Regions from separate parts of the Homo sapiens genome. Here region 2 is linked to region 1. A link means that fine-mapping ties the variant in region 1 to the expression of a gene that starts in the linked region. Tissue or cell type: whole blood. Region 1 holds a variant in brackets; the other region holds the start of a gene. All regions are shown on one strand. Distances are from middle to middle.

The links. PIP is the estimated chance that this variant, and not a neighbour inherited with it, causes the effect.
Region 2: SELENOW starts here. The variant in region 1 is fine-mapped to the expression of SELENOW in whole blood (INTERVAL, PIP above 0.99).

The regions. Positions count from the first base shown.
Region 1 is chr19:47,620,744-47,628,841 of GRCh38, reverse strand. All of the region lies in intron 1 of BICRA (BRD4 interacting chromatin remodeling complex associated protein), which reads right to left. Among named protein-coding and RNA genes, the nearest start is that of BICRA, 16 kb to the right of the region's middle. RefSeq lists enhancers at 1,376-1,950, 7,710-8,098. The variant C/T (reference allele first, on the strand shown) is at 3,484.
Region 2 is chr19:47,775,359-47,783,441 of GRCh38, reverse strand. It overlaps SELENOW (selenoprotein W), which reads right to left and starts at 4,739. Exons shown (of 6, transcript NM_003009.4): 1 at 4,628-4,739; 2 at 2,693-2,717; 3 at 2,525-2,578; 4 at 2,260-2,334; 5 at 2,054-2,152. The coding sequence starts at 4,656. The coding sequence ends at 2,072. RefSeq lists an enhancer at 1,789-2,374 and silencers at 4,442-4,581, 4,592-4,851.

The DNA.
Region 1 (8,098 bases):
GAGCCCAGGAGTTTGAGACCAGCCTGGGCAACATGGCAAAACCCTGTGTCTACAAAAAAAAATACAAAAATTAGCTGGGTGTGGTGGCATGTGCCTGTAGCCCCAGCTACTCAGGAGGCTGAGGTGGAAGGATCACCTGAACCCAGGATGTTGAGACTGCAATGAACTATGATCATGCCACTGCACTCCAGCCTGGACAACAGAGAGAGACCATGAGCCCCAAACTCCCCACAGAGGTCACCTTTGGAAAAGGAAAGAAGAGGAGATGGTGCAAAGACTTTCGTCGTGTTATATGACTTTTTTCCATATGTAATGATTAACACAGACCTGGCTGCAAATTGGCAAACCCCAAAGCTAAGAGCTAAGGAATCTTATTTTGACCCTGGCATCCAATGCCTCCCCTCCATTTGCAGAATCCTTGAAAGTAACTCAGAAACACCTGGAAAACCACTGGACACCTTACTACTCAGAGGGCAGGCCCCTGACCACAGCAGCCTCACCTGGGAGTTAAGAAATGCAAAGTGTCTGCACCAGCTGACTCAGAACTCACGTGGTAACAGGATCCCCCAGGAACTGGTGTGCAAGTCTAGAAAACTGTGGATCTGCATCACAGCCCAATGTGTCTGCACCAGCCCATACAGACCGAAGAGGGGTTAGTAATAATAATAGCAACAACAGTCAATAGTAATAGCAACCAGCAATGACAAAGTCCTTGTCATGTTGTCATGTGCCAGTCACTCCACAACATATCATCCCAATTAAACCCCACACCCTGGCCCGGCGCGGTGGCTCACACCTGTAATCCCACCACTTCGAGGAGCTGACATGAGTGGATCACGAGGTCAGGGGTTCGAGACCAGCCTGGCCAACATGAAGAAATCCCGTCTCTACTAAAAATACAGAAATTAGCCAGACATAGTGGCATGCGCCTGTAATCCCAGCTACTTGGGAGGCTGAGGCAGAAGAATCGCTTGAACCCGGGAGGTGGAGGTTGCAGTGAGCCGAGATCGTGCCACTGCACTCCAGCCTGGGCAACAGAGCAAGACTCTGTCTCAAAAAACAAAACAAAACAAAACAAACAAACAAAAAACCCACTCATCCTACTCGGTAGGCATTTTAGGTCTGTGGCCCCCTAATCTGCAATTCCAACCTCCAAAAATCTCTAAAGCCATCCTTTTCTTTTTTCCTGGCTCATTGTGGGGCAAAGTGGAACTGCAATGGCTGTCCTTAGATCTCCCTCTTAGTATCAACAGCAGCAGATATATTTGCTGCAGAAATCTTCGCAGAAGTGCTAGCATATGTGCTGACGGGGAGCTGCCTGCCTTGCTGGGGGGTCCCACATCATCCTGTGTGCACTCTGGTCTGAAACGGCCTGAATTTTGAAACACCTACAAGGTCAGTTATTGCCATAAATGCAGCATTTCCGTTGACCTATGAATGTCATCTATTTAACCTCCAAGGAGGAAGTAGGCCTCTCTAGCTGATTAGGGAAACTGAGGCTGAACAAGGTAGGGGCCTTGTTCCAGTGCCACAGTTGGCTCTAGACCTACACCACACCCCCCAAATCCTGACTCCAGCTGGTCACCCATGTCTCTAGCTCAGGAACATATTGCTCTCTGAAAGAAGCTGAGGTGGCCATGATTATGTTAAAGAAGACATCAGGAAGCGTAAAAGGAGAAAGAGAGGCTGTGCCTCAGCCTGCAATGGCTCAGCAGCAACCCAGGCTGGCTCTTGGGGCAAGAGGAAAGGAGCTTCCCAGCTGTGGTCTTGGCCCCTGTACCAAGGGGGCAGCGAGGCTTGATGAATAAAAACCCAGGGTGGACCAAGCGCGGTGGCTCACGCCTGTAATCCCAGCACTCTGGGAGGCCAAGACGGGCGGATCACTTGAGGACAGGAGTTCAAGACGAGCCTGACTGACATGGTGAAACCCCATCTCTACTAAAAATACAAAAATTAGCTGGGTGTGGTGGTGGGCGCCTGTAATCCCAGCTGCTCCAGAGGCTGAGGCAGGAGAGTTGCTTGAACCCGGGAGGTGGAGGTTGCAGTGAGCTGAGATCACGCCATTGCACTCCAGCCTAGGTGACCGAGCGAGACTCTGTCTCAGAAAAAAAAAAAAAAAAAAAACCCAGGATGCAGCTGGACGTGGTAGCTCATGCCTGTAATCTCACTGCTTTGGGAGGCCAAGGCAGGCAGATCACCTGAGCCCAGGAGTTCAAGACCACCCTGGGCAACATGGCAAGACCCTGTCTCTAAAAAAAAAAAAAAAAAAACCAAAAAATTAGCGGGCCATGGTGGCACATGACTGTAGTCCCAGCTACTTGGGCGGCTGAGGAAGGAAGATTGCTTGAGCCTGGGAGATCGAGAGGTCGGGGCTGCAGCAAGCCAAGATCACACTACTGCACTCCAGCCTGGGAGACAGAGTCTCACTCTGTCTCCAAAACAAAACAAAACAGAAACAGGCTCCATCCAGGAAGCAGACCATCCAGGGAAGAGAGTGGGGGCTCTGCCACTTAGCAGCTGTCGGGCTCTGGGCAAGTCACTTAATCGCTCTGTGCCTCAGTTTACTCGTGTAAAATCGGGGTGCTCCCTGCACCTACCTCCTCCAGTCCTTCTGTGAGTGAAGGAGCTGATGCTTGTAAGTGGCCTAGACCAGAACCAAGCTGGGGCGAGCCAAGGTAAGTGCTGGCTGTGATTATCATGGTTATTGCCATCACGATCCGTGAACAGCTCTTAACTGGCTCCCCACCCCTCCTGAACCCCTTTGCCAAACTTTGGGATACAGAGTCAAGTGTGTGTTTCTCTGGGGAAAAGTCTGTGGCCTCTAAGCAGATTCCTAAAAGGACTGGAGCTCCCTCTTACCCCAAATTAAGAACCACCATTTGCTCATAAGACCCAGGGGCCAAGAAACAAAAGGCGCCTCTCCATGTCGAGCAAGGCAGCTGCCAGAGCTCTCCCTAACTACCAGCTCCCCGTGCCCCCGGCCCCCACACAGCCCCACGGCCTCCCTCTCCTCCTGTGTCTCTCAGCCCATCCATGCTGGCCTCCTGAACGCTTTCCCAATTGTACACACAACCTCTGCCTTCACACCCTCTCCACTTCGCAAACTGTGAGCAAACTTCACTTCTGAGCCCAACCCAGTACCACCTCCTCCAGGCTCTTCCAGAACCTTCCCTCACCTTCTTTCCTTTTCTCTCCTAAGCCTCCAACTCAGCTCAGAAACTCAAAAACCCAATCCAAACCCAACCCAATCTCCTCACGATCTGTATAAAGGTCACCTGGCCCCTCAATCATTCAGTATCAGTTAGGGGTTTATTCAGTCCTTGTCAGACCCTGAGGATGTCACCTAACATGGAAATAAGCTCAGTGAAGTGAAGGAAATTGGACGAGAAAGTCAAAGAGGGCTTCCCCGAGGAGGGAGCATTTAAGCAGAGACCTGCGAGATGTGGCCCCAAAAGAGTTGGAGGCCACAGTGAACCACAATCA[C/T]GCCACCGCAATCCAGCCTGGGCACCAGTGAGACCCTGTCTCTTAAAAAAAAAAAAAAAAGGCCAGGTTGGTGGCTCACACCTGTAATCTCAACACTTTGGGAGGCTGAGGAGGGCAAATCACTGGAGGTCAGGAGTTCGAGACCAGCCTGGCCAACATGGTGAAACCCTATCTCTACTAAAAATACAAAAATTAGCTGGGCGTGGTGGCTCACGCCTGTAATCCCAGCTACTCAGGAGGCTGAGGCAGGAGAACTACTTGAACCCAGGAGGTGGAGGTTGCAGTGAGCTGAGATCACGTCACTGCACTTCACCCTGGGCAACAGAGTGAGACTCTGTCTCAAAAAAAAAAAAAAAAAAAAAAAAAGCCAGGTGCAGTGGCTCATGTCTGTAATCCCAGCACTGTGGGAGACTGAGTCAGGAGGATCACTTGAGCCCGGGAGTTCAAGGCCAGCCTGGGCAACATAGTGAAACCTCATCTCTGCAAAAACTTAAAAAATCAGCCAGGTATGGTGGCACATGCCTGCGGTCCCAACTACTCGGGTAGCTGAGGTTGGAGGAACGCTTGAGCCTGGGAGGTCAAGACAGGAGTGAGTATGATCACACCACTGCATTCCAGCCTGGGCGACAGAATGAGACCCTATCTTCCAAAGAAAAAAAAAAAAGTCAGGGCGTGGCAGTGGGAGGTACAGGCATAACTTGTTACTACACTTCAAAGACACAGCATTTTTTTACGAACTGAAGGTTTCTGGCAACCCTTTGTCCAGTGAGTCTATCTGCATCATTTTCCCAGTCACAAGCTCACTTCATGTCAGTATCAGCATATTTTAGCAATAAAGCAATTTTTAATTAAGGTATGTACACTGGTTTTTTTAGACATGATGTTATTGCACACTTAACAGATTGCAGTATCGTATAAACGTAACTTTTGTATCCACTGGAGAATCAAAAAACGTGTGTGGCTCGCTCTATTGTGATACTCACTTTACTGCACTGTCTAGAACCTAACCTGCCTGCTCTCTGGGGTATGCTTGTAGCAGGGGAAGATGACTCTGGGCAGAGTACAGTGCAGGCCGAGGTGGGGAGGCGGGAACCAGCTTGGTGAGTGAAAGGCAAGATGAAAAGGGTAGGAGATAAGCCAGGCCAGATCAGAAAGACTTTGTACGGAGCTGAAGAGGTTTTACCTGAGGGCACTAGGGAGTCACAATCTGCCGGGCATGTTGGCTCACGCCTGTAATCCCAGCACTTTGGGAGGCAGAGGTGGGCGGATCATCTGAGGTCGGGAGTTCAAGACCAGCCTGGCCAACATGGAGAAACCCCGACGCTACTAAAAACACAAAATTAGCCGGGCGCGGTGGTGCGTGCCTGTAATCCCAGCTACTCGGGGAGCTGAGGCACGAGAATCTCTTGAACGCCGAAGGCAGAGGTTGCGGTGAGCCAAGATCGCGCCACTGCACTCCAGCCTGGGCAACAAGAACTAAACTCGGTCTCAGTCTCAAAAAAAAAAAAAAAAGAGAGAGAGAGAAAGAACACTTCCTTCCACCCAGCTGCTCAGGGCAATGACCTTGGATCATGCTAGATTCCCTGTTTTTCTTACCCTACCCCCAAGCCCCAAAGCCTGCCCTAGAAGCTCCCTCCTCCAGGAAGCCTACCCTGATGCCTCCCCGCCTGACCTCCCCAGGCTCAGCTGGCAATCCTCAGACACTGATCTGGCTTTGCAGGGGAATGGGTGTGTTCCTGCCTCATCGCTCTCCCCAGTCCCTGAAGGCACAGCACCGGCTATTTGTGCTGGAGGTGAGAACATGGGCCACAGTCCAAGCAGTAGGAAGCCTGAGTGTGAGTCTGAATTAACCAGGAGGACGAAAATCCCAGCTCAGGCAGCAGCTCCCTGTGTGACCTTGGGAAGTCATTTTACCTCTGTGCCTCTGTGACAGGGAGATGGTGAACACCTGGGGGTCTGACCCTCATGAGGATTTGAAGTGAACTGTACTACCTGCAGCCCATGGAGCGCACAGCAGGGAGGAGCAGCAGGGAGGGACAGGTAACCAACAAGGCGACCCTCTAAACACAGCACTGGGAGGAAAAGCAGCAGGAGGAGAAACAGAAGCAGTATCCTTTCTGTAAAGCAAAAATCCATCGCACAAAGCAAGCAATTCACTCCAGCACAGGAGGTCGCTGACGGGGAGGGGAATGAAAATAAAAGGGAATTTTATAAATAGGAGTATATATTTTTATATATAATAATGTATAGTTTTATATTTCTATTATGTATTATGTAATGTCTAATATATGAGAGTACACACACACACACTTTTTTTTTTTTGAGATGGCCTCTCGTTCTGTCACCCAGGCTGGAGTGCAGTGGCACTATCTCGGCTCATTGCAACCTCCGCCTCCTGGGCTCAAACAATTCTCTGCCTCAGCCTCCTGAGTAGCTAGGATTACAGGTGCCTGCCACCATGCCCAGCTAATTTTTGTATTTTTAGTAGAGATGGGGCTTCACCATGTTGCCCAGGCTGGTCTTGAACTCCTGACCTCGTGATCCACCCACCTTGGGCTCCCAAAGTGCTAGGATTACAGGCATGAGCCACCGCACCCGGCCCACTCCTAAATTTTTTTTTTTTTTTTTTTTTTTTGAGACAGAGTCTCACTCTGTCACCCAGGCTGGAGTGCAGTGGCACAATCTCGGCTCACTGCAAGCTCCGCCTCCCGGGTTCACACCATTCTCCTGCCTCAGTCTCCCGAGTAGCTGGGACTACAGGCGCCAGCCACTACGTCCAGCTAATTTTTTGTATTTTTAGTAGAGACAGGGTTTCACCGCATTAGCCAGGATGGTCTCGATCTCCTGACCTCGTGATCTGCCCGCCTCAGCCTCCCAAAGTGCTGGGATTACAGGCGTGAGCCACCACGCCCGGCCCACTCCTACATATTTTTAAGCAGACTTTTGTTAGAAACCAAGTTACACTCAGGCGTGGTGGCTCATGCCTGTAATCCCAGCACTCTGGGAGGCCAAGGCGAGAGGATCACCTGAGGTCAGGAGTTCGAGACTAGCCTGGCCAACATGGCGGCGAAACCCCATCTCTACTAAAAAAGTATGGCCGGGAGTGGTGGCTCACACCTGTAATTCCAGCACTTTGGGAGGCCATGGCGGGCAGATCACAAGGTGAGGAGTTCGAGACCAGCCTGGCCAACATAGTGAAACCTGTCTCTACTAAAAATACAAAAATTAGCTGGGCATGGTGGTGCAGGCCTGTAGTCCCAGCTACTCGGGAGGCTGAGGCAGGAGAACTGCTTGAACCCGGGAGGTAGAGGTTGCAGTGGGCCAAAATCGCACCACTGCACTCCAGCTTAGGCAACAGAGTGAGACTTCATCTCAAAAAAAAAAAAATAAAGTACAAAAATTAGCTGGGGGTGGTGGTGCACGCCTGTAACACCAGCTACTTGAGAAGCCAAGGCAGGAGAATTGCTTGAACCTGGGAGGTGGAGGTTGCAGTGAGCCAAGATCGCACTATTGCACTCCAGCCTGGGCGACAGAGCAAGGCTCCATCTTGAAAATAAAAAGAAACTGAGTTAAAGAAGTCTCTCAATTCAGGCCGGGTGCAGTGGCTCACGCCTGTAATCCCAGCACTTTGGGAGGCGGACGCCAGTGATCAACTGAGGTCAGGAGTTCAAAACCAGCCTGACATGGTGAAACCCCCTCTCTACTAAAAATACAAAAATCAGCCGGGTGTGGTGGCATGTGCCCGTAATCCCAGCTACTCAGGAGGCTGAGGCAGGAGAATTGCTTGAACCTGGGAGGCGGAGGTTGCAGTGAGCCAAGATAGCACCATTGCACTCCAGCCTGGGCAACAAGAGCAAAATTCCATCTCGCATTTAAAAAAAAAAAAAAAAAAGACTAAAAAATTTTAAATACAAAAGCAGGACCATGGAAGGGGACATGCTTGAGAAGGTACAAAGCACTGGGAAGACATCAGGGGATTTTGTTCCTTTGGCTAACGAGACAGAAATTTAACAGAAAAAGACAACCCTGCACAAAACAGCCTTGAGACAGCGGGCAAACTGCAGGGTGGGACAGGACTTTTCCTGAGTTTTATCAACTCCAAGATGCGCATTTTTCACACTTTTGTCTCTGAAAAGGAAGCTGCATCTTACAACTGATGGCTGCTTAGCCCAGGAAATACCCTGTCTGGCTTCCACTCCCAGGTGAACTGCAGGAGAAACACCAGAACTCATGGAGCCTCGGTTTCCCCGCTGAGCAGTGGGGAGGTCAACAATCCTGACCTACCTCCCAGGTTCCCATTCATTCCCTCTTTGAACAGCACTTAGGGAGTGAGTACAGGACTCCAGGCTCACACAGAGGCACCAGGGAGGCAGCCAGGGTCAGGACAAGCAATGGCCGTAGACAGAGATCGAGTGGGGCTCCAAGACCCATGGCCGCCTTGACTGGATGACAGGCCTGCTGGGGAGCTCTGCTGCTGCCGGAAGAGGCCTAGGATTTAGGGCTGGGCTACCTGTGCAAAAGAACTACTCAGAGACAGCGCTTGATGAAAATGCTGTTTCCTGGACGCCACTCATCGGGATTCCCAGGAGTTTGGTCTGTGTGGAGCCCAGGGATG
Region 2 (8,083 bases), 150 kb before region 1:
CACCTGAGGTCAAGAGTTCAAAACCAGCCTGGCTAACACGGTGAAACCCCGTCTCTACTAAAAAATACAAAAAATTAGCCAGGCGTGGTGGCAGGCGCTTGTAGTCCCAGCTACTTGGGAGGCTGAGGCAGGAGAATGGCGTGAACCCGGGAGGCGGAGCTTGCAGTGAGCCGAGATCACGCCACTGCACTCCAGCCTGGGCGACAGAGACTCCGTCTTAGAAAAAAAAAAAAAAATTTGCCCAGCATGGTGGCAGACATCTGTAATTCCAGCTACTCACGAGGCTGAGACACAAGAATCCCTTGAACCCAGGAGGCAGATGTTGCAGTGAGCCGAGATCACACTACTGTACTCCAGCCTGGGCGACAGAGCGAGACTCCACCTCAAAAAATAAACTATGCTCCAGGCCCTGCAGTGCCAGAGACCAGAAAAAGGGCTAGTAACTGTTCTAGAATGGGTTGGGTTTCACGCTTATCTGGACCATACTGGCTTACAAACTGGAAAATCAGACTCAGAAGGTGCTGGAAAGTAGTTCTTTGTTCCTGAGGTTCATATAGAAATTGCCACTTGTTCCACAATGTATTAGGCTGGAAACAATACTTGGTTCAGAGTGCTTAAGGAGGCCAAGCACGGTGGCTCACGCCTGTAATCCCAACACTTTGGAAGGCCAAGGCAGGTGGATCACCTGAAGACCAGCCTGGCCAACAGGATCAGACCTACTAAAAATACAAAAATTAGCCGGGCATAGTGGCATGTGCCTGTAATCCCAGCTACTTGGGAGGCTGACACAGGAGAATTGCTTGAACTCGGGAGGCAGAGGCTGCAGTGAGCCGAGATCGCGCCACTGCACTCCAGCCCGGGAGACAGAGCAAGACTCCATCTCAAAAAAAAAAGAAAGAAAGAAAGAAAAACAGTGATAAGGAACCAGTAGCCAACTCCAGGAACTAGTGGTCAATTCTAGTGCTTAGGAGCTGGTTCACATTTTTCAATTGCTGGGTTGGGAAGGGGGGCTCAGGTTTACAGTGTGTTGGGAGCTGGTGGTGTATTTCATTCTCGGCTCTATGGGGAGAACTGGGAGTCAGCTCTAGGGTTTTTTTGGAGCAGACAATCCATTCTAGAGTTAGCATTTGTTTCTAGAGCATTCTTGGACTCATGTTCAGTTCCAAAGTGGGTAAGTTTCTGGAGCTGGATCAGGTCTGGAATATTCCTAGAACTAATTCTCAGGTTCAGAGCCCGGTGATAATTAGTGACCTACTCGAAATTGTGGAGCAAGGAAATTCTGTCTCAAAACATGCTGGGAACTTGGCCGGACGCTGTCACATGACCTGCTGGGTTGGGAACTGTTTCTTGGCAATGGGACAAAGACCTAGAGTTCCGGATTCTGAACCGTTGGGTTGCTAGCACTTTTCATTCCCAAACCAGGAGAGCTGTTTTAGGGCAGCCCTCTGACCCCACCACCAACTCAGCTGTCATCTTGCATACCCCATCTCAGCTGTCATCCTGCATACCTCTGACCCTATCTCAGCTGTCATCCTGCACACCTCTGACCCCATCTCAGCTGTCATCCTGCACATCTCTGACCCATCACCATCTCAGCCGTCATCCTGCACACCTCTGACCCATCACCATCTCAGCCATCATCCTGCACACCTCTGACTCATCAGCATCTCAGCCGTCATCCTGCACACCTCTGACCCATCACCATCTCAGCCGTCATCCTGCATACCTTTGACCCATCACCATCTCAGCTGTCATCCTGCACACCTCTGACCCATCACCATCTCAGCTGTCATCCTGCATACCTTTGACCCCATCTCAGCTGTCATCCTGCATATCTCTGACCCATCACCATCTCAGCTGTCACCCTGCACACCTCTGACCCCATCTCAGTTGTTGTCCTCCACCAACCGGGTCTAACTTTATCCCGCTCGCTCTGGGGACACACGTGATGTCCCCCCCATCTCCCAGGCTCTCCACCCTGGGCCAAGGAGTCAGAGCATGGGGCAGGGAGAAGATCCAAAGGGTGGTGTCCCTGTCTAGTGGGCCCCCTCACCTCTGCCTTCAGGGCGCATTAGCCCTGAGCCAAGGCGGCTTTGATGGCGGCCACCAACTTCAGAAACTTGCTTTCTGTGTCCACGTAGCCATCGCCTTTCTAGGGAGGGGAGGAAGAGGGAAGGGGTGAGCTGGGACCGAGACACCAACCTCAGCCCCAACCCCATGCTAGCCCCAAAACCAGGCAGGACGGACAGACAGACATACCTTCTTAGAGTGAATCAACTTCCCGGCTACCATCACTTCAAAGAACCCGGTGGCCTGGGGAGTTCCCTCGCCGCACTGAGGAAAGGGGGTAGGGGAGATGTTGGAGGGGCTAAGATGTCCTCTTGGGGAGACCCTCCCCTTCCCAGGGGGATGAGAACATGGGTGAAGGGCGTAGGGCTGACCTAACCCCCCTGCAGTGCCATCCAGGCCTAACGGACCGACACAGTGGCTGTGCTCAAGTCTTTCTCCCCATCCCAAGACTCACGATGTCCAGGCGGCCGGGGAACTCATCTTCTAACTTCTTCTTGAGCTGAAGATACTGAAAACGCGGTGAGAGGTCACAGCAGGGGTCATACCAGTCAGCCCCCTCCCAATATGCACTCTACCCCTCCCCAGCTCCCAGGAATGCCCCCCGGGCATCCACTCTGCTTACCTTGGACTTGTAGCCTCAAGCGCCACTGGTAGGAGAGTCCAAGACATTGGGGCCCAGGGGAGAGAGGGAGAAGTGGGGGATCGGGGAGAGGAGGGTAGACACAGGCGGTGTGGGGAGAGAGCAAGATGGGGCCAGGAAGAAATAAAGAGGAACACAGATGACCAAGCAGAAGAGGTGACAGATGCCCTCAAGAGAGAAGACAGGCACCAGCCAGGCAGAGTTTTGGGACACAGCACAGGGGGTGGCGCGGGGACACACAGAGACACACAGAAAACCAACACCAAGCAAGAGACAGAGAAGGGGGAGGGGAAAAAGGGGAGAGAGGAGACAAGGAGACCACAAATACGAGAGACGGGGACGGGGGAAAACCAGGAGAACTGGATTAGGAGAAGAACAGCACACGTAAGGTCCCCACCCACTCCCTGTGCCCACCACCCTCACCCACAGCCCTCGCAGCACTCCAAGGAAAACCCTGCGGCTCCTGGATTCTTACACCACGCCCAGCTAATTTTTGTATTTTCACCATGTTGGCCAGGCTGGTCTCGAACTCCTAACCTCAGGGGATCGGCCCGCCCCAGCCTCCCAAAGTGCTGAGATTACAGGCAGGAGCCACCGCACCCGGCCCCGCAGCTCCTAGATTCTGAACACCTTCCCAGTCCCCAGGGTGAAATACAGGCTCACCCAACCCCCACAGCAGGCTATTTCGGGACTGGAATCTGGTGTACAGGCCTGGTAGGCGTCTCAAAATGTCACTCTTGCCTCTGCTTTGTCGAGCAGGCAGAGACGTTGGAAAGCTGCCGACAAACCCAGGTTCCAGTTACCCCTGTCACCTGCAGTCCAGACTTGAAGCTACTGACCTGCCCCCACCCCAGTCCCAGCCTCAGTTTTCTCACCTGTAACATAGAACTAAAATTCCTCTCTTTAATTTACTTTTTTTTTTTGAGACAGAGTCTCGCTCTGCTGTCCAGGATGGAGTGCAGTGGCACGATTTCAGCTCACTGCAACTTCCGCCTTCCGGGCTCCAGTGATCCTCCTGCCTCAGCCTCCCAAGCAGCTGCGACTACAGGAGTGCGCCACCATGCCCGGCTAACTTTTTAAGTTTCTGTAGAGACGAGGGGGGGGTCTCCCTGGGTTGCCCAGGCTGGTCTCGAACTCTTGGGCTCAAGCGATCCACCCGCCTCAGCCTCCCAGTGTTTGGATTACAGGCGTGATCAACGGCACCTGGCCTAAAATTCCCCTCTCTTAAGGGATTCCTGGGAGGATAAATTCATTGAACACGTATTTATTAAATACCTACAGCATGCCACACAGTATTAGGTGCTGGGGAGTGGAGAGAACGTAATTTATATCCTATCCTATTATACCCTTCCTGAGACTTGCAGAAATTAAGCGTGTTCGGTATTGACACAGAGCCTCCCTCTTGCCACAGACGGAAAACTGAGGCCAGAAAAGGAGTGGGGTTCGTGGCCAAGGGAACCCACTGGGCAGAGGCCAACAATTCAAGTGCTTCTGAAACACAGGCTGAGACATTCTCGAACCTTCTGGGCTCTCACTGTCCCCACCCCGCGACTGTTCGGGATATTGGGGGAGGGGAAGCCTTAGGGTGGAGGAGCCTTAGGTCCCTTTACAAAGCTGACCCCCAGCCCCTTCCCCAGCGGAGCCCCGGAGTCGGGGGTTCGAAATTGACACACACTCGTCTCAGCCCCACCTTTTATAACCCGAGATGCCCAGCGTGTCACAAGTCGAAGACGGGGCCTAGGGACGACCGCCCTCTGTTTTTCGCCCCTCCGTACGCCCACCCCACCCACATACAGGGGCTCCCTTTTCCCATACAAGGGCTCCCATGGGTCCTCTCCCCGGGGCTCCCTGACCCCGGCTCCGAGAATCGGGTCCCGGCGGGGGTCGGGGACGGGGGCCGCTGGCCGCTGGGCTTACCAATAAACGACTCGGACGGCGAGAGCCATGGCTCGGGGCTGCCACATCCGCTGAGGAGCGGACGCCCGGGCCACACTAACCTCCCACCTGGACGCGCTAGGTCTGCGCGAGTGCGGCGGGAACCTGCGCAGAAAGGATGGAGCCTCGGCTTCCCCTGGCGCCAACCAATGCCAGGGAGGGGCGGTGGGCGGTGGGCGGAGAGGCGCCAAGGCGGAGGATAAGGAACCCGCGACCCGCCAGCCCGAGGCCCCCACACAAGTCTCCTTCCCATCCTCCTGTTGGGCTGGAGAGAGTCTCGATACAGGCAGTCCCCGGGGGAAGCCCTCCGCGCGTCCCCTCCCAGGTCCCCCCGGCCAGAATGGTACGGCCCACGGGGGCGGTGATTTACGGCTGGCCGCTCCCAGCTGGACCCGGAATCAGCCTCAAGGGTGGTCTTTTCACTGCGTGGGCTTGGGGACGGCGCGGTGGGGACAGAAGCAGGGCGCGATTCTTGAGTCCCTCACCTCCCCTGGAGAGGGCGAGGGGGCGAGAGGGGAAGGATTCGGGGTAGACCAGGTGAGGGAGGAGACAGGGAGTTGAGGGGGAGGTTTTCAGGGAGCGGTCCAGGGCCCACAGTTGCCTTATAAAGACCTGCAGCCGCAGGGCGCGGTGGCTCACGCCTGTAACCCCAGCGCTTTGGGAGGCAGAGGCAGGAATTCAAGACCAGCCTGGGCAACATAGCCAGACTGCGTCTCTACAGAATAATAATAATAATACATTAGTGGCTGGGTGCGTTGGCTCACGCCTGTAATCCCAACACTTTGGAAGGCCGAGGCGGGCGGATCACTTGAGGTCAGGAGTTCAAGACCAGCCTGGCCAACATGGAGGAACCCCGTCTCTATTAAAAATACAAAAATTAGATGGGCGTGGTGGCGCGTGCCTGTAGTCCCAGCTACTCGGAAGGCTGAGGCAGGAGAATTACTTGAACCTGGGAGGCGGAGGTTGCAGTGAGCCAAGATCAGGCCAATGCACTCCAGCCTGGGTGACAGAGCGAGGCTCCACCTCAAATAAATAAATAGATAATAAATCAGCCGGGCGTGGTGGTGTGTGCCTACAGTCCCAGGCTACTTGAGAGGCTTAGGCAGGAGGCTCGCTTGAGCGCAGGAGTTTGGAAGCTGCTGTGAGCCGTGATTGCACCACTGCACTCCAGCTTAGGCCACCAAGCAAGACCCTCTCTAAAAAAACAAAAGGCCTGCTGCGGCTGGGCACGGTGGCACATACCTGTAATCCCAATGCTTTGGGAGGCCGAGGCAGGAGGACTGCTTGAGCCCAAGAGTCTGAGACCAGCTGGGGCAACATAGCAAGACCCCATCTCTACAAAAACTTTTAAAATTAGTCCGTGTGGTGGCATGTACCTGTACTCCCAGTTACTGGGGAGGCTGAGGTGGAAGGATCACTTTAGCCCAGGAGTTTGGGGCTGCAGTGAGCCGTGATTGTGCCACTGCCACCCCAGCCTGGACAACAGAGTAAGACACTGTCTCGAAAAAAGAAAGAAAGGAAAAGGCCTGGCCAGGCACAGTGGGTCACACCTGAAATCCCAGCACTTTGGGAGGCCAGGGTGGGTGGATCACCTGAAGTCAGGAGTTCGAGACCAGCCTGGACAACATGGCAAAACCCCGTCGCTACTAAAAATATGAAAATTAGCCAGGCGTGGTGGCGCATGCCTGTAGTCCCAGCTCTTCGGGAGGCTGAGGCAGGAGAATCACTTGAACCCAGGAGGTACAGGTTGCAGTGAGCCAAGATCACGCCATTGCACTCCTGTTTGGGCGACAAGAGCAAAACTCAACTCCATCTCAAAAAAAAAAAAAAAAGGAAAAGGAAAAGGCCTACTGCCGGACCTGGCACAGCCTGGTCATTCATTACAGAACAATAGTCACTCCCCATGAACCCTCTCCGTGCAGAGGGGATCGTCATGGAAAGTGCTAGAAACAGGCAGTTGAGTTGAGGAGTGAGGGTGCAGGGGCTTATCTCTGAGCCTGTTTCTCCATTTGGAAGTTGGGTGTAATTGCCTACAGGAAATGTTCACTCATTTAACAAATAGGTACTTCATAACCACCTGCAGTCCCAGTTTCCAGGGATACAGCAATGAATAAATAAACAAAGTCCCTTCCTTCATGGGAGTGATCTGGCAGGTAGAGACAAAGGGCAGGAAACAACATGAAAACAGCACTTCCATTAGATGGTTGATGTGAGCAGTAAGCGAGTTTATACAGGTAGGAAGAACTAGAGCTCTGACTGGCACACGGGGATAACTCAATAAACTCAGCCTGATGAGGTGGCTCACACCTGTAATCCCAGCACTTTGGGAGGCCGAGGCAGGCAGATCACCTGAGCTCAGGAGTTCAAGACCAGCCTGGCCATCATGGTGAAACCCTGTCTCTACTAAAAATACAAAAATTATCCCAATGTGGTGGTGCACGCCTGTAATCCCAGCTACTTGGGAGGCTGAGGCAGGAGAATCACTTGAACCCAGGAGACAGAAGGCAGTGAGCTGAGATTGCACCACTGCGCTCCAGCCTGGGCGACAGAGCGAGACTGTATCAAAAAAAAAAAAAAAAAAAAAAAAAGGTTAACTCTATCTGGGATTTCCCTGTCCCCAGATCCCCTAGTCTTTACCTCTTAGAACCCTAAGCAAAGTTCAAGTCGACTCCACCCACCTCAGTCTGATCCCCCTGATCTTGGGAGGATTTAATGAGCAAGTGCATGTAAAGCAACACAGGGCTGGGCAAAAAGTGAATGACCCACAAATAGAGCTATCTTCTGTGACTCCCAGAGCCCTCAACAAAAACTCAAACCTCTGCCTGGGCAACATAGTGAGACCCCATCTCTATAAATACAAATTATATATATAGATATGTATATACACAAAAATATATATACAAAATAAATATATACATACCATATATATTTTTTTGTTTGTTTGTTTGTTTGTTTTTTGAGACGGAGTCTCACTCTGTTGCCCAGGCTGGAGTGCAGTGGCACAATCTCGGCTCACTGCAACCTCTGCCTCCCAGGTTCAAGCAATTCTCCTGCCTCAGCCTCCCAAGCTGGAGCTACAGGCATGCGCCACCATGCCCAGCTAATTTTTGTATTTTTAGTAGAGACAGGCTTTCATCATGTTGGCCACACTGGTCTCCAACTCCAGACCTCAAGTGATCTGCTCACCTCGGCCTCCCAAAGTGCTGGAATTACAGGCTTTGAGAACCGGGCCCGGCCCCAGCCAATTTTTTAAAATATTTTGTAGAGACAAGGTCTTGCTATGTTGTCCAGGCTGCTCTCAAACTCCTGGGCTTAAGTGATGTTCCTGTCTCGGCCTCCCCAAGAGCAGAGATTACAGGCATGAGCTACCTCTCCAGGCTCAAATTTCCGAATTTTTTAAGGACACCAGTCATGATGGTTTAGGGACCATCCTACTCC